Linked DNA regions of Homo sapiens: all the other regions are linked to region 5. Evidence: fine-mapped expression QTL. A gene starts in region 5. Each other region holds a variant in brackets. All regions are shown on one strand. Distances are from middle to middle.

Region 1 (5,000 bases), 40 kb after region 5:
AGTTATTCTATATCATAGTGACTTCATATGTTGTAAAATGGTTTTCTATAATCTTGACGTTTTCTTCAGATAGCCAGTTTTCCTGCTTTAGCTGCCTTATAAGAGCTTCCAAAGACTTCAATCTACCTAGAGTTTGTTGCTCTTTTAACTCTAGAAGAGTTATCTTTGAATGTAGCTTAGAGACTTTCTGCCAAAGATGTTCCTTATTTATATCTTGTCTGCAGTAAGAATGTTCGATTTGTAAAACTTCTGTCCCATAGTCTACATCCTTATACAAGGAGTCTTCAATGTCTGTGTCTTCCATTTCCGTGGTTTCTTTTTGTGCAGATATAAAAGAATTAACTGAGGGTTTAGAATTTTCAGCAGGTACAAAAATGGCAATAACAGATTCTTTATTTGTGTTTAATTCTTCAACTGTTTGATTAATTGTGCTGAATAAGAATGGATTTTCCTGTGCTGACTTTATTTCCATGGAATTACTTGTAAAGTTTGGATTAGCAAGATGACTGGTAGTTACTTCAAGAACTTCTTGAGTTTCCAAAGATTGATGAATACTTTCTGAATTTGAAGTTGTCAAAGTAATAGTTGTAGAATTTAGATTCTCAAAACATGTGTGAAAACCACCTCTACCTGTATCTTGGTTAACTGATGTTTCCAAGGTAGATTCTGGTTTCCCAGTATGTTGTTTAACTAGATTAAGAGTTAACATGTTATTTTGTATACTTCCTGTTTTGGGAGCTGGTGGCTTTACCAAGGAAGATGAATGAAGTAATTCTGGATGTTGATGGGGCACATCTGTGTTAACTATATTTTTCTTTGTCTCATTTAATACAAATGATTCTTCTGACTTGGCTTTTGGGCATACTTCTTTCTCATCTTCCAAGTTTTTCTTCTGGGATTTTTTTTTAGAAGGGTCTTTTCCCTAGAAAATAATATTTTCATGTTCTGAAAAAGATGACTTTTATTGGCTTATTATGCTAGTGCTATTTAATTATAATATTGAGTAGTACACTGGCCAAGCAAATTTATTTAGTTAAAAAAAAGCTCAGAGTATATATACCTTAAAGTATTTTCTAAAAAGCATTAATCCCATTCAATATACGGCAGAAACATTTCAGATCATTCAAAAGACTAGTATATTGGGAGGCCAAGGCAGGCAGATCAACTGAGGTCAGGAGTTCAAGACCAGCCTGGCTAACATGGTGAAACCCCCATCCCTACTAAAAATACAAAAATTAGCCGGGCGTGGTGGCAGGCGCCTGTAATCCCAGCTACTCAGGAGGCTGAGGCAAGAGAATGGCTTGAACCCAGGAGGCAGAGGTTGCAGTGAGCTGAGATCGCACCACTGCACTCTAGCCAGGGTGACAGAATGAGACCTTGTCTCAAACAAAAAAAGTATAAAAAATAAAACTCATGAACTTGTGTTAATAACTTAATAATGTATATCTCTTGCTTCTCTTAAGCTGTGCTTCATGAGTTTAATTTTTTTTAATTATCACTTTTAGTAAAAGCACAAATTAGTGCTCCCTTTTTTCCAAGTATCTGTTTACCCAAGTTATAGTTCCCTCTTACTCTCCCACCTGATCACCTGCCACCCTGAAATCTGCCACTCTGCTCAGCATTACCCCTCTCCCATACTGCAATACCTGATTGTCTTCAGGCAAAGAAAATATTGTTGGAACTGCAGTTTGTTTTAAATATCGAATACCCCATCTGATGTCAAGAGAGTCAGGAGTAAAATGGTCACTACATAGAAACTGGTATTTACTGGGAACCCATGAATCTCGCTTCATATTCTTTAACCACTTTTCCAGTCTTTCTTTGTCATGTAGAGGAAATCTGGAATTTAAAAAAAAAAGAAGAAAAAAGGAAAAACTTTGCTATATTTTTACAATTTTGCCAAATTCCCACCCTATATATCTGGGTAACCTATGCATCAAGTAAGTACTACAAGAGGAAGGCAACCATCCCTACCAAATAAGAGCATCTTCATGACAACTAGTACCATTATCATCTCTGCAGTAAGAGGCCTAAGATGTAAGACATGTAGCCAAGGCTCTTATCTGATAAGAGCTGAACATAATTCAGAGTCCCTTCAAGTAAAATATATGTGTTCCTATAAAGGACAAAATCTATTTGTATTTTCTATGGATTATGTTCCATTTTTATATTGCTGTACAGTTTGCCTAGAACTAGAAAAAAGGTTTGTATAAATTATAAATTCCTATTCAAATGTATTTCATAATACCACCACATGTCAAATGGCTTGTTGTCTATAATTCAAGGCAGTATTAAGCTTTACAATCTTATTTAATATTTAAAAAATAAGATGTTATTTCAAACAAATGATTTAGCTGAAAAAGTACTGAAAATATTCTCTTTACTAGCATCATCTTTAATTCTATCTATAAGTAATCTAGTCTAATAGTACTACACTTCTATAACCAATGAACTGGGAACTCCAAATTTCAAGTTCTGAAGGAGAAACTGATAGAAGAAAAGAATGGAA[C/T]ATGTTAAAAGGGACAGTCTCAGATATTTTATATGAAACAAATCAAATACAAATGGCAAGACAGCGCTGTATACATTTTGTTCCTGTACCTGACAATAACCTGGATTTAAAGTTGGTGCTAACATTACAGTGTATGGCAGAATTTGATAGAAAATTTTTCCTATCAATCTAAAAAGGTTTGGGTCAAGGTATACAAAACAATATTTGAAAATGGTTTATATTCCATTTGGTACTTTTCCAAGAACAGAGTCCAAGACACCACATAATTTCCTGTTTTTAAAAATAGTAACAATATAAGGTTTCTCATATAAAATGTAGCTGTTATACACTCCCTTCCCGCAATCCCAATCATTTAGCTTATGTTTTGTAGTAGCATCATTTTTTCCCCCTAAATTCTGGTAACTTTTTAAGATGCCATGGAAAGTCTGGGTACTCTGTAAGATATAACTTTTAATCCTGATATCCTCATACGGAAAAAAATCAGATAAACTACCTTTGGAAATTCCAACCACAGAAGCAATATTAATCATGTTTTAAAAATATTTTAACTTTACAAATATTAGGTTGTAAGTATGACAAGCATAACCAGAAAAGGAATTTTAAAGGCAGACAAATTTTCTTTTAGAGGACCTGACTTCTTCTGGCCATTGGTAAATTCATTTCTTTTGTTACAACTGAAATGAGAATAGGCCTTTTACAATAATGCTTTTTACTGTAAATTCATGTATATGGATGCTGTTTGCAAATTATTTCCATTGTACCTATATGCTAAGTTATCAACTCATTAAAAAAAACTTTGTGAATATCCTTATTGTTTACTGGATTGTATTGCTTCAATAGGTAAATCTCTAAGAAATCTTGATCATGTTTCCTGAATAAATTATGTCTTTATATTGGTTCAATTCATTTGATAATTTTGTTTCATTGTCTTATGTAATTCCCCAAAAGGCATAAGATAATCACAGTACAAACTGGACACTATATTAACTGAATTCCCAAATTCATATACATTTAAACTACAGTTTGCTGTAGTGTTAACATGAGCAAATTCAATTCAAGTTTGACGCTACTGGAGAATAAAACTAATTCAATTTTTATTTTGTGGATTACACAAGAAAATTTTTTAAAAACCCTAGAAATAATACAACTTTTACTAAATTCACATTTTCAGTGAAAAAAATCTTTACAATTCACTTGCATTATTTTTTCCTTCCTAAAAAGTTACTGTAAGGTCCACAAAGTTTAGTTAAAAATTTCAGTGTGGGGTTATACCCCATCTCCAATATCAAAGGCCAAATAAATCTGGGAAATACGGGGTTAAATCAAGTTCAACATGATCTTTTGCTACAAACATTCTCAGAGATAGAGCCATTAGTACAGTAGTATTTCCCTATAAACTGAAAGTGGATTAGATTGTTTTCCTCCCCCAAACATCTCTTTGCATCTTGAGGCTGGGCTTCAAGGGAGACAATCCTGGAAATATTGCCATGGATTGTGAATTACTTGGGGTTATCAGTTTTTTTTTCTTTTGAGACGGAGTTTCGCTCTTGTTGCTCAGGCTGTGGTGCAATGGTGTGATCTCGGCTCACCTCAACCTCCACCTCCCAGGTTCAAGCGATTCACCTGCCTCAGCCTCCCGAGCAGCTGAGATCACAGGCATGCGCCGCCACGCGCAGCTAATTTTGTATTTTTAGTACAGACGGGGTTTCTCCATGTTGGTCAGGCTGGTCTCAGACTGCCGACCTCAGGTGATCTGCCCGCCTCAGCCTCCCAAAGTGCTGGGATTACAGGCGTGAGCCACCGCGCCTGGTGGGGTTATCAATTTTTTTTCCATTAATTAAAATACTGGAAAGCAGCCGAATCATTAATGAATAAGTCCTTCAGGTCTAAAGTAAAATGAGCACAAAACAACTGCTGAAAATCTGAACCAGGTTAGATCTAAATGAATTGTTTTTAAATACAAGAAAAAATGGAAATGCAGTATTTTAAATATGTTGCTTTTCATGTGTTATTAATCATGTGAGTACTATTAACATCTCCATGTTACAGATGAGATATGTGAGACACCAAAGCTTAAATACTTTCCAAGAGGTCATTAAGCTACAGAATAGTGGAACCAGGATCTAGCATTGAAGCCTGGACCCCTAATTATTATACGACACTGCTTGTCTGTACTTCTGAATAAAAATCAGTGCTTCAGTAGTTTGATGGAAATATATCGTGGCTCTAGTAATTCAGAGTAACAGAATAAAACCTTGTTCTCCGCAGAGTATCTACAGCCCTAAGCAGAAGACTAGTTTATAATTCTGGCTCTGACACTAAACTTTCAAGGTCGGTTACCTAATCATTCCGGGCCTCAGTTTCCTCAGGAGAAAAGTGGGATGAAATTATACCTATGCGACCTACCTCGCGGGGGGTGTAAATTAACTTTGCGTGCACCTTTCCACTTCGCAGGTTTCACGTATCTTAAATGGTGGTTAATGTTGTTCAA
Region 2 (5,180 bases), 110 kb before region 5:
CATCTCCCAAACCTCCCTCCGTTCCCACCACCCCAGCCCCTGGTAACCACCATTCTACTCTCTACTTCTATGAAATCAGCTTTTTAAAGATTCTACATGAAAGTAAGATCATGTGGTATTTGTCTTTCTGTGCCTGGCTTATTTCACTAAACATAATGTCCTCCAGGTTCATCCATGTTGTCGTGAATGACAGGATCTTATTCTTTTTATGGCTATATAGTATTCTATTGTATATATAGACTGCATTTTCTTTATCCATTCATCCATAGATAAACACTTCGGTTGATCCATGTCTTGGCTATTGTGAATAGTGCTGCTATGAACACAGGAGTTCAGATACTGATTTCATTTTTTTTGGACATATGCCCAGTTGGATTGTTGGATCATATGGTAGTTCTATTTTTAATTTTCTGAGGAGCCACAATACTACTTTCCATAATTGCTGTACTACTTTACATTCTCACCAACAGTGAACAAGTGTTCTCTTTTCTCCACATCCTTGCCAATACTTCCTACCTTTCATCTTTTTGATAATAGTCATTCTAACAGGTGTGAGGTGATATCTCACTGTGGTTTTAATTTACATTTCCCTGATGATTAGTATGTTGAGCACTTTTTCATATATCTGTTGCCCATTTGTATGTCTTCTTCTGAAAAATGTCTATTCAGGTGCTTTGCCCATTTTTTTATTTGGGCTGTCTTCTTGTTATTGAGTTGTTTCAGTTCCTTATATATTTTGGATATTAACCATTTATCAAATGTATGGTTTGCCAATATTTTCTCCCATTCCAAATAACCCTTTCCTCTTTATAAATCCTTACCACTATAGCCTTTGAAAGACAACTCAAAACTCACCTCCTCCAGGAAGCCCTCCTTGATTAATTACCTTGATCTCACACATTTTTATTCTTCCTTTACTCTGATCCTTCAACACTTACATATTTAGTCTAAATTGGCTTTTAGGTTTCCCTTTGTATCTCCCAATAAGTACAGTAAGACAGGAATATAGGGGGCAATTAACCAACAGACATCAATAAATATTTATCAAACATTTATTATATTTAGTTATCCAGCCAATAGAAATTCATTTGGTGCTGTATTGAGTCCAATTTTTCTGCTTTCCCAGGTTTGCCTGCCCCTCTCCACACTGTTCCTCTGGCTGCTTGCTCAGTGTAAAGTCCCTGCCACAGCCACCATCTTCTCTCCCAACACCATCAGCTGTCTCAGCCTCTCTGTAGCTGATGGCTCTGACTCAGCCTCTGTCATGTCCACACTGCAGCAGGAGCTACACCCCTGCACCCTCATCCTGTGTAGCTGCTATTATAGAGACTCTGGCTTCTTGAACCACTTCTACATTCCAACGAAGCACCCTGCTGTGGGGTATAGGATCTGGCTTTCCCAGAGGCTGATCAGAGGGTCATGGTAACATAATCTGAAAACAGGAACTTAAAACTTAATGCGGAAACCTTGACCAGTAAGAGACAGGAGACAAGAAGGAGCTAAAAGATCAATTCCTTGCCATTCCTTCTTGTGACAGACTGTTGCAAAGTACAGTGTGATCCCAAAGACCTGTCTGCAAGACAGTGTGTGTCACAGAGCAACCAGCTGTATTTCCTTGAGAAGCTTTGGACAGCTTGGCAAAGCACTGTTAGGTATTATTTGTCTGGCTTCCCCCGTTCCCTCACTATTTTTGTCCTGGAATTCCATCTCCTCATAAAACCTTCTCAAGTGAGCTCAGATTCTGTTTTCTAGGGAACCCAGGCTAAGACAATTATCTACATAAACTCTCCACTCTACATTAGACTAGCCCTGAGAAAGGGTACAAAAGAGGCATAAAAGAAGTGAATCCTGTCCACAACAACCTCACAATCTAACTGGGGAGGCCAGACTCTACCTATGTAACAATAAGTGAAAAAGACAAAGGAATGAATGAATGTAATTAGAGGGCAAATTGTTCAGTGTTTTAGAAAATGGGAGCCATTTGATACCACTCAGTGTACAGGGCCCAGAATAAAACAAAAAGTATTCACAGAGAAGAGGAAAACCATCAGATCTCACCCACGGCAGACTGCTAGGAAGAGGGGCTTAAAAAAACGCTGGGAAGACAGAGAAGGGGGGAAGACTGCAGGGAGTGTGTTCCCTGGAGAAGAGTCACCTTGGTGAAGCCAGCACAACCACAACAGTGGGCGTGGTAAGGAGAAGCAGGGAGAGCCTGAAGGACATTGGGTTTCCCTGAACAGAGGGGCTTGCTGGGGAGCAGCAGGGTGAGTCCAGGGTTCATAGCAGAGGGCTGTGGAGGCAAGACAGAGGGGTTTGGAGGTGAAGGGCATTTGCTACTCCTCATATTACCACAGAAGAGATGAAAAAGAAAAAAAATACTCCATTTCTTAGGAGGTTGCAGTATAATATTCCCAGCTTCTCCCACACCCTCCATCACACCTGTGAGCCAACAGCACAAGGAATCTGGGGGAAGAAACAAGGTCTTCTTGGCCCTGAGCCTTCTGGTTTCCCTTTCATATCTGCCATCTGACAACAGGGGTACCTTTCCTTGGCAGGCCTGCCTGTGTGAGCAACAGCCTGCGGTGGGACCTTGAGGGTGACAATGTCTAATGGAGAAGGAGGTACCTGGAAGCCCTGTGGCCGCACGTCTAATCACTTCCCCAGTCAGCCTGAACTATAATCAAGCTGGCACTTCTCCTTCAATCTGGTTTTTGTGTCGTCTTTCTCAAATGGTGCAAACTTGGGAGGGAGGACAGGAACATTATTTAATGACTTCCTAAAACATCAAAAGGGGGCTTAGATCTGATGCAATGAGAAATGGGCATGGCAGGAAAGAAGCATGATAAAAAGAGATAATAAATGCTTCTTGATTAAATGGTTGGCCTACATCCTAATTTCTACCCATAAAAAGGAGAAGAAGGCCGGGCGCAGTGGCTCATGCCTGTATCCCAGCACTTTGGGAGGCCAAGGTGGGTGGATCATCTGAGGTCAGGAGTTTGAGACCAGCCTGGCCAACATGGCAAAACCCTGCCTCTACTAAAAATACAAAAAATTAGCCGGGCATGGTGGCAGGCACCTGTAATCCCAGCTACTTGGGAGGCTGAGGCAGGA[C/G]AGTCACTAGAACACAGGAGATGGAGGTTGCAGTGAGCTGATATCACGCCATTGCGCTCCAGCCTGGGCAGCAAGAGCAAAACTCCCTCTCAAAAAACAAACAAAAAAACAAAACCAAAAAGGAGATGAGAGGGCTCCGTGGTTTCCACATGGTTGCTCTTATGTAGTTATTTTTACCCTCCAGTGTTTTTCACAGTGGCCCTCTCTGGCTTTATTTCTGTCATGAAGTTCCCTTTTCCTCTGAGAGATGCTGCAAACATTTCAGAAACATTTCACTTGCTTCTTCCAGTCCAGAAGAGTGATTCTTCCATGACAGAACGGGCCAGCTGCTGATGTGAGCCCATCCCTCCAGATCAGCATGACTAAGATATTCATCTTCATGGAGCAAGAATAACTACAGGAGATTTGAATGCTGCATTTGCTTTAAATAAAACTGCAGATGCAATTCCAGGAGTAGGATAGAGACAGCAGAAAAACAGCACATTTCTTTTATAGTATCATAGTGTCTATTTTAATCAGCATATTACAGATGTTTTGAGACATTCTAGCAAAATTGACATGGTTGACAACGCTAGACAGAACTGCCTCACGGGGGAAAAGAGGAAAAGATTAAACCACAGGCGTGTGGCAAAGGAACCTGCTTTGTCAGAACTATGCTTTGTCATCACCGCTGAGATCAGAGAGCTGTTTCTATGGCAGCAGGCAACATGTTCTGGCCAGGAGACAATCATGTAGGGATTTTTAATTTCATTTGATGTCTAATTGCCTACTACTTCGGGAAAGAGACAAATAATTAAAAAAAAAAAGTCTTCCTTAACTAGACAGACTAATACCCCCAAGGAAAAACTTGGGTTTTTATAGTATGCTTTTCAAGATTTGAATTTCATGTCTGTATAGTTGAAGGCATGGGACCTTCTCCAACAAGGCAGAATGAAACCAGTAAAAAGGAAAGGAAACTCAGATGAAATTTCCATCACTGCAGAGCAGTTCACACATCCTGTTAATTACTATTGCCATTCATAATTAAGGGAGGTTCCTCATGGATCTTACTAACCCTTCTATCAAACAGCACCTACTCTTGCAAACCATTGGAAGAGGTTGTGCTATTTATGACAGGTCCCTCCCATTTCAGATCCATGCTGTTCATTTCCCTGAGCAATTAACGGACATTACAAACACATATTCTCCAGAGAGATTCCTAGTTTGGGAACATCACTTTTCAGATGTTGCTACTGTTGTCACTGACCATTTATTTCAATGTTTTCCATCTTCCCTTAAAGAGTAAGTGATTGAATGTCTCATGATTCTCTGCTTTTGCAACATAACACGCTTCCCTCCATTTGATCAAATAATACTGGTGCTTCTAAGGATCCTTTAAGCTAATAGCCAACAGTAGCCTATTTTAATTGCTATGGAGATGTCTTAGTTTGTTTGAAGCTGTTATAACAGAAAACCTGAGACTGGGTAACTTATAAGGACAGAAATTTATTGGCTCACAATTCTGGAGTCTGAGAAGTCCAGTATCAAGGTGCAGACATCTGGTGACGACCTTGTAGTTGCGTCATCCCATGGCAAAAGGCAGAAGGACAAGAGAGAGCAAGAGAGACACAGGGAAGGGGGCCAAACTCATCCTTTTATAATAACAACAATCCTACCTATAAGGGTGGAGCCCTCATGGCCTAATCATCTCTCAACAGTCCCACCTCTTCATACTGTTACAAAGGCAATTAAATTTCAACGCGAATTTTGGAGGGGACAAACATCCTAACCCTAGCGAAAGAAAACAAATAATTTTCTGGTAACTGAGGTAAATATTCCAGCAATTTGATTGGGAGTTCATGTCATAATGAGCTATAATTTTTTCTTTTTAATTCAGATGTCCAGAACTCAACTTCTAAATCTCTGGACACTAGGCAGATGGCTCTTTCTTTTCTTTTCTTTTCTCTGCTCTTCTCTTTCTTTCTTTTTCACTCTCTTTCTTTTTTCTTTTGCAAGTTACAGAGGTGACACTGGTGTTAATACCTGGTTAAATACCACTCACGGACAGTCACTCATTGCCCAGCTTTCCA
Region 3 (5,000 bases), 24 kb before region 5:
GATATAATCTTATATTAAATATGTTCAAGAAAGAACTGTCTTTCCTCAACACCAATCTGTTGAGATTCCCTGCAGTTTTGTCCCAGTCACACACAGGTTTACTGTTAGAGTGATCTTGACCTATGTCTACCATATCCTGTCTCCGAGTTTCTTAAAAGTTACTGATATTGGCATGGTGGCTCACACCTGTAATCCCAGCACTTTGGGAGGCCAAGGCGGGTGGATCACCTGAGGTCAGGAGCTTGAGACCAGCCTTGCCAACATGGTGAAACCCCGTCTCTACTAAAAATACAAAAGTAGCTGGGTGTGGTAGTGCATGCCTATAATCCCAGCTACTTGGGGAGGCTACAGCAGGAGAACTGATCAGTTGAACCTGGGAGGTGGAGGTTGCAGTGAGCCGAGATCACGTCACTGCACTCCAGCCCGGACAACCAGAGCAAAACTCCGTCTCAAAAAAAAAAAAGTTACTGGTACATTTTTCCTTCCTCCTGCCTTCCACTGCCACCATCTGAGGTTAGCTTCCTTCTCTCAGTACTTATTCCTTCCTTCATATTGATGTCAAAGTATAAAGGACTCGGGTGAATACAGAACCAAGGAATTTAACAAAAAGATACAGGGTAGTACTTGAACATACAGAAGAGTGGTTGGCAAGTTGGTTATACCAAAAAGCAAAATCAGAGAGGTAAGCTAAACCTAAGAACAATAGGCAGGGCATGTACTATGAATTACAAGGTAACAGTAGAGATGGCAGGGAACTAGAGAACAAGCTAGAAGATTTTGGGGAAAAGGTTTGAAAAACCAAGCCAAAAAATCTAACCAACAAGTTGGAAGGAACTAGATAAACAAAGACTGAGTAGGAAGCATGGATGGATTGCCAGTAGTAAAAATAGAGCTTAATAGTGAAATTATCTCCTTCTGAACAAAGAAAGAATTTATTTCTTATATGGCACCAGAACTGGCATCTCCAAGTGAAGACATCAGAAGTCAGGAAGTTAATATAGCCTCATTTTGTAACCATCACTTTATCAAGTAACTAGTTGATATATATGGGTAAGATAAGTGTAATAAAAGAAAGCTGGCTGGGCGCGGTGGCTCACGCCTGTAATCACAGCACTTTGGGAGGCCAAGGCAGGTGGTTTACCTGAGGTCAGGAGTTCAAGACCAGCCTAGACAACATGGTGAAATCCCGTCTCTACTTACAACACAAAAAATTAGCCAGGCATGGTGGTGGACACCTATAATCCCAGCTGCTTCGGAGACTGAGACAGGAGAATCGCTTGAACTTGGGAGGCAGAGGTTGCAGTGATCTGAGATCGCACCACTGCACTCCAGCCTGGGCGACAGAGCAAGACTCTGTCTCCAAAAAAATAAAATAATAAATGAAAGCTAAAATTATAAAACACTGTCAAGGTTTTATGAGAATAATGGTTGATAAGCTTCTGAACTACCAAAAAGGTCTAAAAAGGCCAAATATAAAAATATAAATACTAAAATCAAATCAAATCAAATACAAAAATATAAATACCAAATCAAACCAAAGAACTGAAGTATATGTCAGAGTAGCACTTAGATTAATAAAGTATTAATTAAAACAATTTCATGTTTTATTTTAAAAATTTGATTTTATTTATATCAAATCTTTTTTTTTTTAATTCCTAAAGCTGAATTGAATCTGTAGTTTTTAAGAATCATGTTCCAGCTGGGCGCAGTGGCTCGCGCCTGTAATCCTAGCACTTTGGGAGGCCAAGGCAGGCAGATCACCTGGCGTCAGGAGTTTGAGACCAACCTGGCCAATATGGTGAAACCCTGTCTCCACTAAAACTACAAAAATTAGCCGGGTATGGTGGCGGGAGCCTGTAAATCCAGCTACTTGAGAGGGTGAGGCAGGAGAATCGCTTGAACCTGGGAGGCAGAGGTTGCAGTGAGCTGAGATTGTGCCACTGCACTCCAGCCTGGGCAACAGAGGGAAACTCCATCTCAAAAAAAAAAAAAAAAAAAAAAAAAAAGAATCATGTTCCTAGCCTTACCTTGTTCCTCCACCATCAATTGAGAGAATTCGGATTCCTCTCCCTTTCACTGGATCCACATAGCCAATTAGGGCCAAAATTTCTCTAACTGCAGCCTGAAGAGTTTCATCCTTAATTTGTCTCAGTCGTAATAAATATGGAATAATTCTTTCCTATATTGAGAGAAAAGATACTTTGTTGCTTTTGTCAAATCAAGACTGAAAATGTATGATTATTATTAACCAATACATGCAGTTCACCACATGACAACCAAGGTGACAGTGTTCATTACTTTCTCAGTAATCTTATAAGACAGATTAGTTTTTGATATATTAATGTCAATTTTCTAGATTACATTTGTTCTAATATTGAGGACAAAAATTAACCAATATTCAAAAGTTTTCATTAAAAGATGTAATACTTAACTAGAGAAAATATAATTTATAGAAATTTACAAATTATTATAACAAAAGGTTAACATTATAAATTTTGTATAATATTTAGTCCAAATCCTGAGATTAAGAGGCTAAAACTGATTCACAGTAACTACTAGAAGTTAAACTGTTATTAAAAAGAAATAATGAACCATCTTGTATACATTGCATATGGGATTCAAGGTTGCCTCATAAAAGAATACAAACAAATGTTAACAAAGGTAACTGAGGTGAGAAGGTAAAAGCAGGCCACTACAATTAAATAATCAGTTTAAATAAACCTGAGACTTCAAGATTCTAAGCACTCAACATCATATTGTTGATCACAGACAAGAGCTTAAATCCTAGAGTTCTATGTTGCTTACCAAAGATTCTCTAGCTTCTGTACACAGAAGCATCTTACATAGTCAGTACCGCAGGTTTAATGGAATGGCTGAGTGGCAGCTATAATTCTGCTGTGCAACCTTCTGTAAATCAAA[C/T]AATTTTCCTAGGTATCACTCATTTTGTTTCTTTTTTATGATCAATCAACCTGAAATACTCTAAATTCTTTCTCAATATTTTTTCCCCTAATATTGAGCTGTGAGGCCCCACTAGAGGAACTTGAGCAATGGTGGAGAATAATGCAAATTTCCATTTCCGGTTAAGATGAAATACTCTGTTACAGATCAACGCTCACATCAACAACAAGAAAATCTTGATGAAATACAAGAAAAGTACCATCTGTTTAAAGGCATCAGACAGAGAGCTGCTGAAGCAACAAGAACAGATGGAGCCAAGAATCTGGAGAAGGAGTAATTGCTAGGAAGTGAGCTGGTAAACTATAGCTTTTCTTCCCTTGAGGCATTTGCTGATTCCAGGAAAAAGTAAAGGACCAAAAAAGTGAGTCTGACTCAGACAGAGGGCCCCAAATAAAGGACAGAGAAACCAGCTGATCGTTTAGCATCTAAGGGGTTTGGAGTGAAAAAAATGGAAGACCTGAAGGGCTTCAAACACATGGTTGGCTTTACCTCAAGACATTTGCTGAATTCTAAAATCATGAGGTGTGGAAGGCAAAAGGTAAGCCGAAGACCTCTGAAAATCAGAGTGGAAGGCTTTGTATTCTTGAGATTTTAGGACCCAATGAGATGGTGGTTAAGTGAACACACCCTGGAAGAATATGCCCAAAAATCAGGGCAAACTAGAGGTCTTACCCAAACTGTAATACAGCCTTGATCCAGATTTGACCCTAACTGAATTAAGGCTATCAGGGCTCCACTCAAATGCCAAACAGAAGAACAAATAAACCCCAGAAAAAGATATAATTTGATATAATCTAGAGCTTATGCAATTTTTTAAACTTACAATGTCCAGCATCCAGAAAAACTATAACGTATGTGAATCCAGTACCGAATTACAAAAACCAAGAATTGATGTTCATATTAGAATTACCACAAAAACATGTTGAAATAAAAATAACAAAATAAAATTATCAAAATATATCAGATACCTATGAATTAGTTAAATAAAATCATTCCAATGGAAGATGTAAAAGACACCCAACACTGAAAATTTTTAAAACACAGGAGGAAAATAAAGATGACCCGAATAATTGAAAAAATATGCCATATGTCATGGCTTGGAAACTCAACAAAGACCCAATTCACCCTAAATTGTTCCACATATTCACTGCAATCCCACCATGTTTTTCTCTTTTAAAAATTTTTTTGTAGATAAGGTGATTCTAAAATTCATATAGAAATATAACATGTCAAGAATAGCCATGCCAACAACATTGAGAAGAACAAGGTTGGAGGATTTATACTACCTAGGTTTATACAGCTGCAAAAATTGAGCCAGTGCACTATCAGCACAACCACACACAAATATACCAGTGGAACAAAATACTGTGTCTGGCTGGGCATGGTGACTCACGCCTGTAATCCCAGCACTTTGGGAAGCCGAGGTGGGTGGATCACCTGAGGTTGGGAGTTCGAGACCAGCCTGACCAACATGGGGAAACCCCATCTCTACTAAAAATACAAAACTAGCTGGGCATGGTGGTGCATGCCTGTAATCCCAGCTACTAGGGAGGCTGAGGCAGGAGAATCATTTTAACCTGGGAGGCAGAGGTTGTGGTGAGCCAAGATTGCACATTGCACTCCAGCCTGGGCAACAAGAGCGAAACTCCATCTCAAAAAATACATAAATGAAAAATACTGTGTCTAGAAACAGATCCATATATACATCTCATTTATGATAAAGGTCTTTTCAATAAATGGTGCTGAGTCAACTGGATAAGTGTATTTTTTAAAAGTCAGGACTTCTGACACACACCACACAACCAAATCTATTCTAGATGAATACTAGATAGAAGAGTAAAAGGCAAAGCAAGGTTTCAGAAGAAAACACAAGAAAATTTATATATATATATATATATATATATATATATATATATATATATATATATATATTTTTTTTTTTTTTTTTTTTTTTTTTTTTGAGACGGAGTCTCACTCTGTTGCCAGGCTGGAGTGCAGCGGCGTGATCTCAGCTCACCGCAACCTCCGCCTCCCAGGTTCAA
Region 4 (5,180 bases), 23 kb after region 5:
TATTGCTAAGGAATGAGCAGTTTACCTTTGCATGACTTGAGCTGATGTTGTTGTCTATTTTTTATTAAAAAGCTTTGTTTACAGTACTCTTCAGAAATACATTACTGTGATGATACCTAGTAATGTGCTTCTACCTCCTCACTAAATTATATTACCAATGCAAACCAGATGTTTCAGTCTCGCTTGCATTGGTAATAAAATAAATCGGAGCTGGATCCCAGCTCTATGCCCCTCCTATATTAAGGAACATTGTTTTCCCTTTGTGTTTTATCATTTCCCAAATTAAGGAAACTATCCAGGTGGACTGGAAGTTGATATGCTGAAGGGTGTTTCAAAGCACCAAGTTTTAACAAGGCAAAACAAATGCTTCTTGAGCATATTATTTAATGTTCCAAAAAAGGAATAGACATTTCTTATTTAATGACATTCTGGGAATTGTTTGAACAATTTGTATAGTGTCCGTCATCTGTCACTCTCTACTCCCTCAAAAATTCTTTCTCATCTTTTAATACCACACTGATGAACGGATTAACTTATTTTTCATCCGTGGTTCAGGTACATTCTAGTCTCATGCCAGTGAATTCATTTTCATTTAGACTAACCAAGGTAGCAAGCTCAATGAAATTAACCTCATTTCACATTTATAATATTCTAGTTCATTGTGCATATTTAAACACCACACATCTTTATTAATGGAAAACATGAACCATGCACTGAATAAAACTAAAGATTAGGTTCTCTCTGAAATTAGCTCCTACTCCATTGCTTCTCATTTTGAATTATATTTCTGTAACCAAAAGCAAGACTTGAACTTACATATTATTTTCCAGCGATCCAAAAGAATACTTACTTAATCCCTAAATTTATTTTCTGATATTCTATATAGTAATTTGAACATTAAAAGTTATTTTCCCTAAAATTATGAGGCAGTATTCGTCTAAGATTTGTAAGAATTCTGTGTACAGTTTATCAAGCCTGCTTTTAGATATGGGACACTTTTTCTTTTAGTCCTAGTTCTATTCCTGATTAATTAAAATCACATAGTTGAGCTGTTGTTTGTGTATTAACCTGTCTAGAATAATCGATTTTCCATTTCTATGTTTCAGGGTTTTTAGATGATAAAATACGTAAAGAGCTTTTGTTTCTCTAAAGAATGGCACAAGGTAAGATGTAAGCTATTATTGCCCTGAGCAGTGGTGTTTAAATTTTGAGGGGTAATTTATCCCTTTCTTAATCTTAATAGAAATTGTGAAAAATGCCTATGCACATGAAATTTTGCATTAAATTTTAGAGGATCCAATGAGCCTCCTAAAAGCCTCCCATGGTCCAGTCCCCAACCCTGGAGGGAATGCTACTGCACCTTTTCTAGGTACTGGTTATAACATGCCAGGAGAGATTTAAAGTAGCATTATTTACACTACAATTCAAGTTAATAATTTAACAGGACCTGCCTGAATAATGGGACAATAATATACTCATGGAGCTGCAAATTGGTTAATTTATATGCTGACTGTCTCAATGTGGAGCCAGAATTAGACCCAGCAAAACAGCTCTTGAAATATGGCTTAGTAGGTGCTATTGTTCACCTGAAAAATATTTATGGAGCTCTGACTTTGTACTAGGAATTGTGCTAGACAATGAAGCTAAAAAGCTCATAAAAAGCTTATACTTTGGGGATAAAAAAACAAGTAAAGAAGCAATAATGACACTGGATGATAGAAATGATAATAGGATTAAGTAAAAGGAGCTAACAGACTAAATATGAAGGTTATCTGGAAGGGCAAATGAAGGCTTTCTAGATAAAATAACGAATAGGTCAGCCCTTGTATTAGTCTGTTCTCATGCTGCTAGTACAGACATAATCCAAGACTGGCTAATTTATAAAGGAAAGAGGTTTAATTGACTCACAGTTCCACATGGCTGGGGAGGCCTCACAATCATGACTGAAGGCAAATGAGGAGCAAAGTCATGTCTTACAAGGCAGCAGGCAAGAGAGCTTGTGTAGGGGAACTCCCCTTTATAAAGCCATCAGATCTCATGAGACTTATTCACTATCATGAGAACAGCGCAGAAAAGACCTCCCCCATGATTCAATTACCTCCCACTGGTCCCACCCAGGACACATGGGAATTATGGGAGCTACAATTTAAGATGAGATTTGGGTGGGGACACAGCCAAACCATATCAGTCCTGAAGGATGAATAGGAGTGAGCCCATAGCTCTTACACATATTCTTAAAAACCCAGTGTTCTACAAGCCTTATTGCAAACAAAACAAAACAAAAGCCTGCAGTCCTAGTTCATTTTCTGCTCTCCAGAGTCAACCGCTTCTAATCATATTGCAGATTCTTTGTGTATTTACCTATATTTCTCAAAATAACATGCTTAATACACACACACACACACACACACACACACACACACACACAAGTACTTTTTTTTTTTTTGAGTCTCGCTTTGTCACCAGGCTGGAGTGCCGTGACAGGATCTCAGCTCACTACAACTTCCACCTCCCGGGTTCAAGTGATTTTCCTGCCTCAGCCTCCTGAGTAGCTGGGACTACAGGTGCACACCACCACGCCCAGCTAATTTTTGTATTTTTAGTAGAGACGGGGTTTCAC[C/T]GTATTGGCCAGTATGGTCTCGATCTCTTGACCTCATGATCCGCCCGCCTCGGCCTCCCAAAGTGCTGGGATTACAGGCGTGAGCCACTGCATCTGACCTATATTTTTAAAGTTTTGGATTTAGGCACTGTCTTTTTGACACTCCACTATGGTAGATGAGGATTTGCTCTGTTTAATTACCTTGTCATTCTACCCCTTGCTTCTGACCCAACCACAAACATGAGCATACACACACACCCTTCTATGTTACCTTCTATCTTCCCAATATACATTGTGTAAGTGGTTATATTGTATTTACATTATTTTGACCATGTAAATGCAGTTATGTATGAAGAAATGACAGTTTGATCTTCCATGCACATTTCATGTCAATATTAGTCTGGATTCTTTGCATAGTTTTCTCTGTGCTTTATCATTAATTTAACCCTAAATTCTACCCCAGATGAGTGAGTTTCCTCTCCAGATATTCAACACATTAGTTAATCTAATGATTTCCATCTTTGAAGAACTTTATGTTTCATTTGAAGAACTCGATGTTTCTGAGCCTCCAGACCTATTGTTGTCATTTGGACTGGTGGCTCTCTAGTAACGTTGTATTGGGGCCCTTCCTTCACCACCAGCTTGGAATTCCTTTTGCTTCTTTCTTGATTTGAATTTCCTTTTTTCCTATTTTCATCTCTAGATCAATTGAATAATAAACTATCATCTAGGCAATCATTCCAGAAGATAAACAGTTTTTTTATTTTCTTTTATGGCCTTATTTCCCTAGAATACATTTTCCAACAGCTTCCTTAGAAAGGGTCCAGAGGAGGCAATTTTTTGAGACCTTGGATATACAGAATCAATTCTATGTTTTTCCTTCAGAATTTTCAGATTATTAATCTTTCTTTTTACTTTTTGCTTCCAGTGTAGCTAAGAAGTTTGGAGCTACTCTATTCTTGACCCTTTGTGTCTTTTTTTCTTCTTGCTGAAGGTCTGTAAAATCTTCTGTTTATATTTATAGCTCTGACTTTAAAAAATAATGTGCCTTGGTAAGTACCTGTTTTTGCCCATTGTTCTCAGGACATAATGGGTCATTCCATCTGGAAATACATGTTCAGGTCCAGAAAAGTTACTTGCATTATTTCTGTTACTATTTTCTTTGCTCCATTTTTTTTTCTATTACAATTCTCTAAAATGCCCATTATGTGGATATTGAGTCTCCTGGATCTATTGGATTTCTAGGACTAATGTAACAAAATAGGACAGCCTGTGTGGCTTAAACAACAGAAATTTATTTTCACAGTTCTGAGATCAAGGTATCAGTAAGTTTGGTTTCTCCTAAGGTCTCTCTCCCTGTATTACAGATGGCTACTTTCTTCTGTGTCCTCACATGGTCTTTCTAGGATGCCCTTGCATCCCTCATGTCTCTTTGTATGTCCGAATTTTCTCTTCTAATAAGGACCTAAGTTGGATAGCAATAAGGCTCACCCTAATGGCCTCATTTTAACCTAATCTCTTTAAAGGCCCTGTCTCCAAATACAGTCACGTCCTGAGGTACTGGGCTTTACGGCTTCAACACATGAATTTTCAGGGGACACAATTCTTATTTGGGTCTCTTCCTTTCTATCTTTTGGCTTTTTTTGTTCTACTTTTTGGGAGATTCCTTCAACTTTAATCTTCTAACTCTCCTATTAACTTTTCATTTATAACATTTTAAATTACTAGAGCTCTTTACGTTTTTATAATATTCCTTTTCTAAAAGGTATCATGTTTTTGTTTTCAGAAATGCAATATAGCCTTTGCTCAGAAAGAACATGAACTATAGTTGGGTTCTTTCCCCTATGTTTTCTTATGACTACATAATCTGTTTTCGCTAAGTTGCTGTTTTTTACTTATTTATTTGGGCCATGCTATGGTCTGAATGTGTCTCCCAAAATGCATGTGTTGGAAACTTCATGCCCAGTGCAACAGTGTTGGGAGGTGGGGCTTTTTGGAAGGTGCTTAGGTCATGAGAGCTCTGCCATCATGAATGAATGAATGTCACTATATAAGGGGCTTGCAAGAATGTGTTCCCTCTCTTTCACTCTTCTGCCATATGAGGACACAATGTTCATCCTCTCTCACTCTTCTTCCATATAAGGATGTGGCAAGAAGGCCCTCATCAAATGCTGGCGCCTTAATTTTGGACTTTTCAGCCTTCAGAGAAATGTTTTTCTTTGTAAATTACCCAGCGTCAGGCATTCTGTTATAGCAGTAGAAAATAGACTAAGACGTCCACATCTTTATTATTAACTGCTCTTCTCAATTGTCTGTTGACTATCAGTGGACAGAACATTTAAAAGCTGGTGAAAAACTCTGTACCTATGGATGAGTCTTGCCCTGAGTTTCACTGTACAGCAATGATTCTCAACTTTTGCTGTTCATTAGAATCACCTGGAAAACATTAAAAAATATAGATGCTCAGGCTTTAAACCAGACCAATTGAATGAGATTCTCTGAGAGTGGAGCCCAGGCCAGGAAAAGTTTCTAAAACTTCCCACGTGATTTTAATGCACAGTGAGTGTTGAGAATCACTGTT
Region 5 (5,154 bases):
GAATGGGGTAAAGAGAGGGAAGTGTTAAGAGAGCTCTAAGGTTTTAAATCTGAAAAATACGGAGAGTGCCATTTGCGAATATGAGAAAACTGTGAAGGGGACAATTTAATAGGAGAGAAAAACACATTTTCTTTTGGATTCACAGGATGAAGTAACAGTGGGACATTCAAATGGAAATGTACACAGACTGTGGATTTACTTGTGGAATTACCAGCATAGTGGCAGCAGAAACCACAACATTAGACGTATTTACCAGATGATAGTTTACAGTAATAATACATGACTATTTTGGGATCAGGCAACCTGAGTAAAGCTTTTCTTCCTTGAAAAATGTGTATTTGCAATACAAACTATATTTTCCATAATATTTCAGGATATTCACATGCCCACTGAAGTATATTTGGGTTTCAAACACGAAACTCTGGTTTAGGGAGAGCGACAGGGGTAGAGCCTTGAGTGCCACCCAGAGCTAGGAAGAGGAAGAAAAGACTCTAAAGGAAACAAAACAGGAGAAAAGCCACCCTGAAAAAATCAGGACACTGAAAACCAAGACAGGACCAAATTTTTTCAAGTAATGGATAATGAACAGAATAAAATACTTGAGTACTGCAGAGAAAGATAAGAACTAAGAAATGACTGGCCAGGTGCGGTGGCTCAGGCCTGAAATCCCAGCACTTTGGGAGGCCGAGGCGGGCGGATCACCTGAGGCCAGGAGTTTGAGAGCAGCCTGGCCAACATGGGGAAACCCGTCTCTACTTAAAAAAATTAGCCGGGTGTGGTTGCGCACGCCTGTAAATCCCAGCTACTCGGGAGGCTGAAGCAAGAGAATCGTTTGAACCTTGCAGTGAGTCGAGATCGCACCAAGGCACTCCAGCCTGGGCGACAGAGAGAGACTCCCAACAACAACAAAAAATGGCAGGACAGGAAGGTGTCTATGGCTCAGCATTCTAACTCTGACCTTTTTACAAATATATATTCCATGAGTGAAGCAATATGCAGCTTCAGCACAACCCCTCTAACTGGGGTAAAAAAAAACAACTCAAAGTACAGGCTGTTCTTGTAACAACTTTGCATGTGAAACAAGTGAATAGCTAAACTAGTGAAACTGGCCCTTTCATTCAACATCACTCATTAAAAGGGCGTTTACAAGATTTTAATTTAGTCCTGATATAGAAATAAAAAAAGAGATCAACATTAAGAAAAAGTTGATTATAATTACGAAATAAAAACATGTTCTTATATTGAAAGGACAACTAATTTGCATAAGCAATTTAACAAAATAGCTAAAATGGGCTTGATACAACTGCCTCACAAGGCATAAGCTCTTAATGTTTCACTGTTTAACAGCATTTTCTTAATACACTGAAACATTTGTCATTTTTGAACTCTCAGAAATTAGGACTGCAGAACCAGGATACAACTGTTTTGGAATTGAAAACAGTATTTTAAGCAGGATTATATGATAGTCCCTTATGTCACAACTCTCCTGAGTTTTTCCTATGAGTCACCATTTTAAAGTTATCATTGTATTAGGCGTGGAAAGCAGGTTCCTTCCAGCACAATGATAGAAATGACACAGGGATAGGAAGCACTGCAACACAGTGATTCATACACCTTATCCACTTAAGCAACAGCGGTCAAGGATAGAATCAAATGTGGATGGGGTCAGAAAGAGATTACTGACAAAAAATATCAGGCAGTAGAATCACCAGGTGCACACTGACAGTCGAGAATGATGTAGACTAGGGAAACCCTCCTGAGAGTGACCAGTTAACTACTGGAGAACACTACAGTCCAGGGGAAGGCAGACAGACTCTGGAAAATTGAGGAGGGAGTCGTGGGGATGGGACAGGGGGAGCAGGGCGGGACCTGCGAAACCAAATACGGTTTGCGCTTCTGGGGCAGCAAAGCCCACGGGGGCGGAGGGCGCCGAGTACCAATGAGCTCCAGGACCTGCGGGCTCCTTCCAGCGCCAGCTCCTCCCCAAAGCCTGGCGTGTCCCCACCCTCTCGCTCGGGAAGTGCCCTCCAAAGAAAGAAAGGACGACCCGGAGCGCCGGACAAGGGTCCAGAACGATCAACCAGCCTCCTATCGTCCCGCCCCTGTCCCCTCGCGGCTACTTACCGGGATGCAGGCCGCAGTCACTAGGGCTGCAGCGGCGACTCGCTCGTTCCCGGCAATGACGTCCACTCCAACCGGCCTGCATCAGCTGAGCTTCCAACACAAACACTGGCGCAGCAGCTAGGTCGCCACCCACTCAGCCCCGCCCCGCTCCGCCCCCAGCGGAAGTGACGCGCTAGAAGTTTGGGTCTACCCGCGGGCCGGGGTGAGGATTTTCCGCCTCGCTCAGGCCTCTGCCTCCTTGTCAATCTCCGTTCCTCCCCCGCCCCGAGATATGCGCAATAGAGCATGACGGAGCGCAAGGCGGGAAGCCGCGACAGACGTGTGTGCGTGCGTGCGTGCGTGCGTGATGCGCGAGGCGTGGCTTGCTGGTGGGGCGTGCTGTGCCTTGGTTGGTTGCCGGGTGTGAGAGCGGTGGGACTTCGTTTTGCCTTCCTGGGCGGGACCTCGGAGCAGTGTCCTGGTTTGCTTGTTTGCGGGCCGCTATTCCCTTTCAGCAGAGATAAGCCTCCCTCTCCGCGTCCCTGAAGCCCCTGCCTGCGCTGAGTTCCTTGGAGCTGGGGGCTGCGATACCAGTCTCTTGGAGGGTGGTGCCCGGCGCGGCCGCGCCCCTTTCTCTATATCCATTCCTGGGCATGGCCACCCAGACTAAATGTCACTCAAAAGCGAGTTGACATATATTACTGTATTGGAAGTTAGCATAAACCGCCCCACAAATGGTCCCACACGTAACACATCTTTTTAAAATTGTGGCATTTCATACGTACCACAGGGGCAAACTACAGCCCTCAGGGCAAATCCAGCCCACCGCAGGTTCTGCTGTACTAGGAGCTAAAAATGGGTTTCACATTTTTCAAAGGTTAAAAAAAAAGTTTTGCGACAGATGACAATTATATGACATTCATATTTGTGTCTGCTTTTTAAAGTTTCATTAGAACATAGCTTTGCATTCCTATACATGCTGTTAATTAAAGCTTTTATACTACAATAGCGAATTTGGGTAGTTGCAATAGCCCCTTACCCTCTTGAAGTGACCTTGCAATTACGTTGAGGTCGGGAAAACAGATCAGTTTCAACTAGTTATCAACCTCAAAATGTTATCAAGACTTATACTGTACTCTCAAGGCTTACCCACTACCCATGGGTATGTATGCTTTAGCCCCCTGTAAGGTTATTGTAAAGTCCTTAAGGAAGGGGATTCTTTGACCTGTCAAATGTAGTGGATGTTACCCTGATAGTTGTGTTGTTTTGATTTTTTTAAATCAAGGAGGGAAAGCCAGCTTGCTATGTTCTTGGGACACAGTGTCTGGATTATGTACATCATAATGCCTGGTAAACCCCAGCAGTGGATAAGCCAGACATGTTATTTAGCTACAGGAGAGTTAAAAGATGTATGCACCAATTAAGCCTTACAGGCGTGTGGAAGGAGCTTTAGTTTTTGAGACAGATTCCTCCTTGTTGCTAAAGAAAAATTATTCTGACACTTGTTAAAATGTCAAGGAAGACATTTAGAACTATTGCAATAGGTGCCATGACTATCACCATGGGGGAGAGAGATTGGCCTCAAGTTTTAATACAACAAAAACAGCTAGGATTTATAACCAGCAAGCAGACTGAGGGGTCAGTTCATGGAAAATTACTAAGAAGTGATATCAAGGGTCGGGGATATTCTTGTTAAAGTGACTTACAAGATTCTTGCTGAAGACAGGCGGAGATGATCAATTATCAAGGCTAGGAGATACTCTCTAAACTGACTTTGCAAGATTCTTGCTAAAACTGGACTCAGCAGGCCTAAGACAGGGGCCCAAGGATGAGGCCTAGTTGGGAAGAGGGCTCAGAGGAGCCTAACTAAAGTATGGTCAAGGAGAGAGCACCACCATTCCCTCTCCGCTTATGCTCTTTCATCCCCTAATTTAGTCAGATGTTATTAAATATCCAGATTTTCCTCCCATGTCAGAAATTTTCAAATAACGCCCAATTCCTGCTTCTCCATTCTTATCCTTCCTCTCCCTCCCTTGTCTACCACCATACCTTTAATCAGTCATGAAGTCTGATGAGTTTTACCGCAGAATTTCTTGAATCGTTCCTCTGCTCCACATTCGCATTTCCACTGCTCTAGTTCAGGCTTTCATCCTTGCTCTTCAGTTTCATCTAAACTGGTTTTCCAGCCTGTAACTAACCTCTGACCCAGTCAGTCTCTTCTGTGCAACCACGGTAATCTTTTGAAAGTGCAAGTCCAATCGTGTTTTCCCGAATTAAAAAGCTTTTGCTGGCTGTACATCTTCACAGAATATACCGAATGAAATTATAGGTTCTGACCCTGCTGACCTTCCAGCCTTTACTTTCACCACTTGCCTCTCACTCTCTATCCTCCAGCCACACCTGTACTTCCCCAGATACTCTTGTTCCTTTTCATACTTAGTGCCTTGGTCATGCTGTTGGCTTAGCTCCCCTTCCACCTTGTCCTCCTAAAGATTTGTTTGTCCTTCAGCCAGGAAAATCTTACCTCACTACTCATAGAATGAATCATTCCTTCCACCTGTGCTCACTTCTCTTATTGCCCTTGCTGCACAGTATTATAATTTATTTGTTTATATGCCTGCCAGTTTCCTGCAGTCAAGGAGCGTAAGGTAAACTGTATTGTCTGGATCTAGCGTAACATCCAACAAATAGTAGACTCTCTAAAATTCTGTATTATTGAATTGATTTTTAGTTTCATTTAGATTACTAGTTTGATAAGTTAAAAATGGAAAATAAAACCCATTTATGATTCTTTTGATGTTGGGCAGTTTTGAGACAAAAGAGAATTATATTTAATTTCAAACAAATTCAGTAGTATGCAAAATTGGAGATTATCTTGTGTATAATAGCAGACTAATGCCTTCAGGAAATCATCTATACTTGAAATAATGCTAAATACAGTAATTGTTCAACGCTATATTCTTTGGAAGCTGGGTAAAAGAGACATCACATTGCCCTGTATCAGTTACTTGCTATGCTCATTCTATTTATAAGGTTTATTATTGATTTATC

Direction of the effects. Positions count from the first base shown, and alleles are read on the strand shown. Sizes are in standard deviations (SD) of each study's normalised expression. Not every link is listed here.
For the expression in monocytes of the gene that starts at base 2,231 in region 5, allele C in region 1 goes with a lower level than allele T (large effect, 1.9 SD a copy in Quach 2016).
As copies of C replace G in region 2, the expression in monocytes after interferon gamma of the gene that starts at base 2,231 in region 5 goes up (large effect, 1.2 SD a copy in Fairfax 2014).

The links. PIP is the estimated chance that this variant, and not a neighbour inherited with it, causes the effect. A credible set is the group of variants that fine-mapping cannot tell apart.
Region 1: its variant is the best candidate, but not a certain one, in a credible set for the expression of PNPLA8 in monocytes (Quach 2016, PIP 0.76).
Region 2: its variant is the best candidate, but not a certain one, in a credible set for the expression of PNPLA8 in monocytes after interferon gamma (Fairfax 2014, PIP 0.70).
Region 3: its variant is the best candidate, but not a certain one, in a credible set for the expression of PNPLA8 in whole blood (INTERVAL, PIP 0.69).
Region 4: its variant is the best candidate, but not a certain one, in a credible set for the expression of PNPLA8 in monocytes after R848 (Quach 2016, PIP 0.55).

What each region holds. Positions count from the first base shown.
Region 1 is chr7:108,564,184-108,569,183 of GRCh38, forward strand. It overlaps THAP5 (THAP domain containing 5), which reads right to left. Exons shown (of 3, transcript NM_001130475.3): 2 at 1,647-1,839; 3 at 1-922. The coding sequence ends at 8. Among named protein-coding and RNA genes, the nearest start is that of THAP5, 3.0 kb to the right of the region's middle. The variant C/T (reference allele first, on the strand shown) is at 2,510.
Region 2 is chr7:108,412,681-108,417,860 of GRCh38, forward strand. The region is part of intron 1 of NRCAM (neuronal cell adhesion molecule); the gene reads right to left. Among named protein-coding and RNA genes, the nearest start is that of NRCAM, 41 kb to the right of the region's middle. The variant C/G (reference allele first, on the strand shown) is at 3,112.
Region 3 is chr7:108,500,464-108,505,463 of GRCh38, forward strand. It overlaps PNPLA8 (patatin like domain 8, phospholipase A2), which reads right to left. Exons shown (of 11, transcript NM_001256007.3): 5 at 2,028-2,179. Among named protein-coding and RNA genes, the nearest start is that of PNPLA8, 23 kb to the right of the region's middle. The variant C/T (reference allele first, on the strand shown) is at 2,920.
Region 4 is chr7:108,546,701-108,551,880 of GRCh38, forward strand. It overlaps a transcript of THAP5 not described here. Among named protein-coding and RNA genes, the nearest start is that of THAP5, 20 kb to the right of the region's middle. The variant C/T (reference allele first, on the strand shown) is at 2,621.
Region 5 is chr7:108,523,905-108,529,058 of GRCh38, forward strand. PNPLA8 (patatin like domain 8, phospholipase A2) reads right to left here and starts at 2,231. Exons shown (of 11, transcript NM_001256007.3): 1 at 2,125-2,231. LOC124901722 (a long non-coding RNA gene) reads left to right here and starts at 2,571. Exons shown (of 2, transcript XR_007060473.1): 1 at 2,571-3,741. RefSeq lists enhancers at 153-688, 1,368-2,328, 2,100-2,219, 2,510-2,849.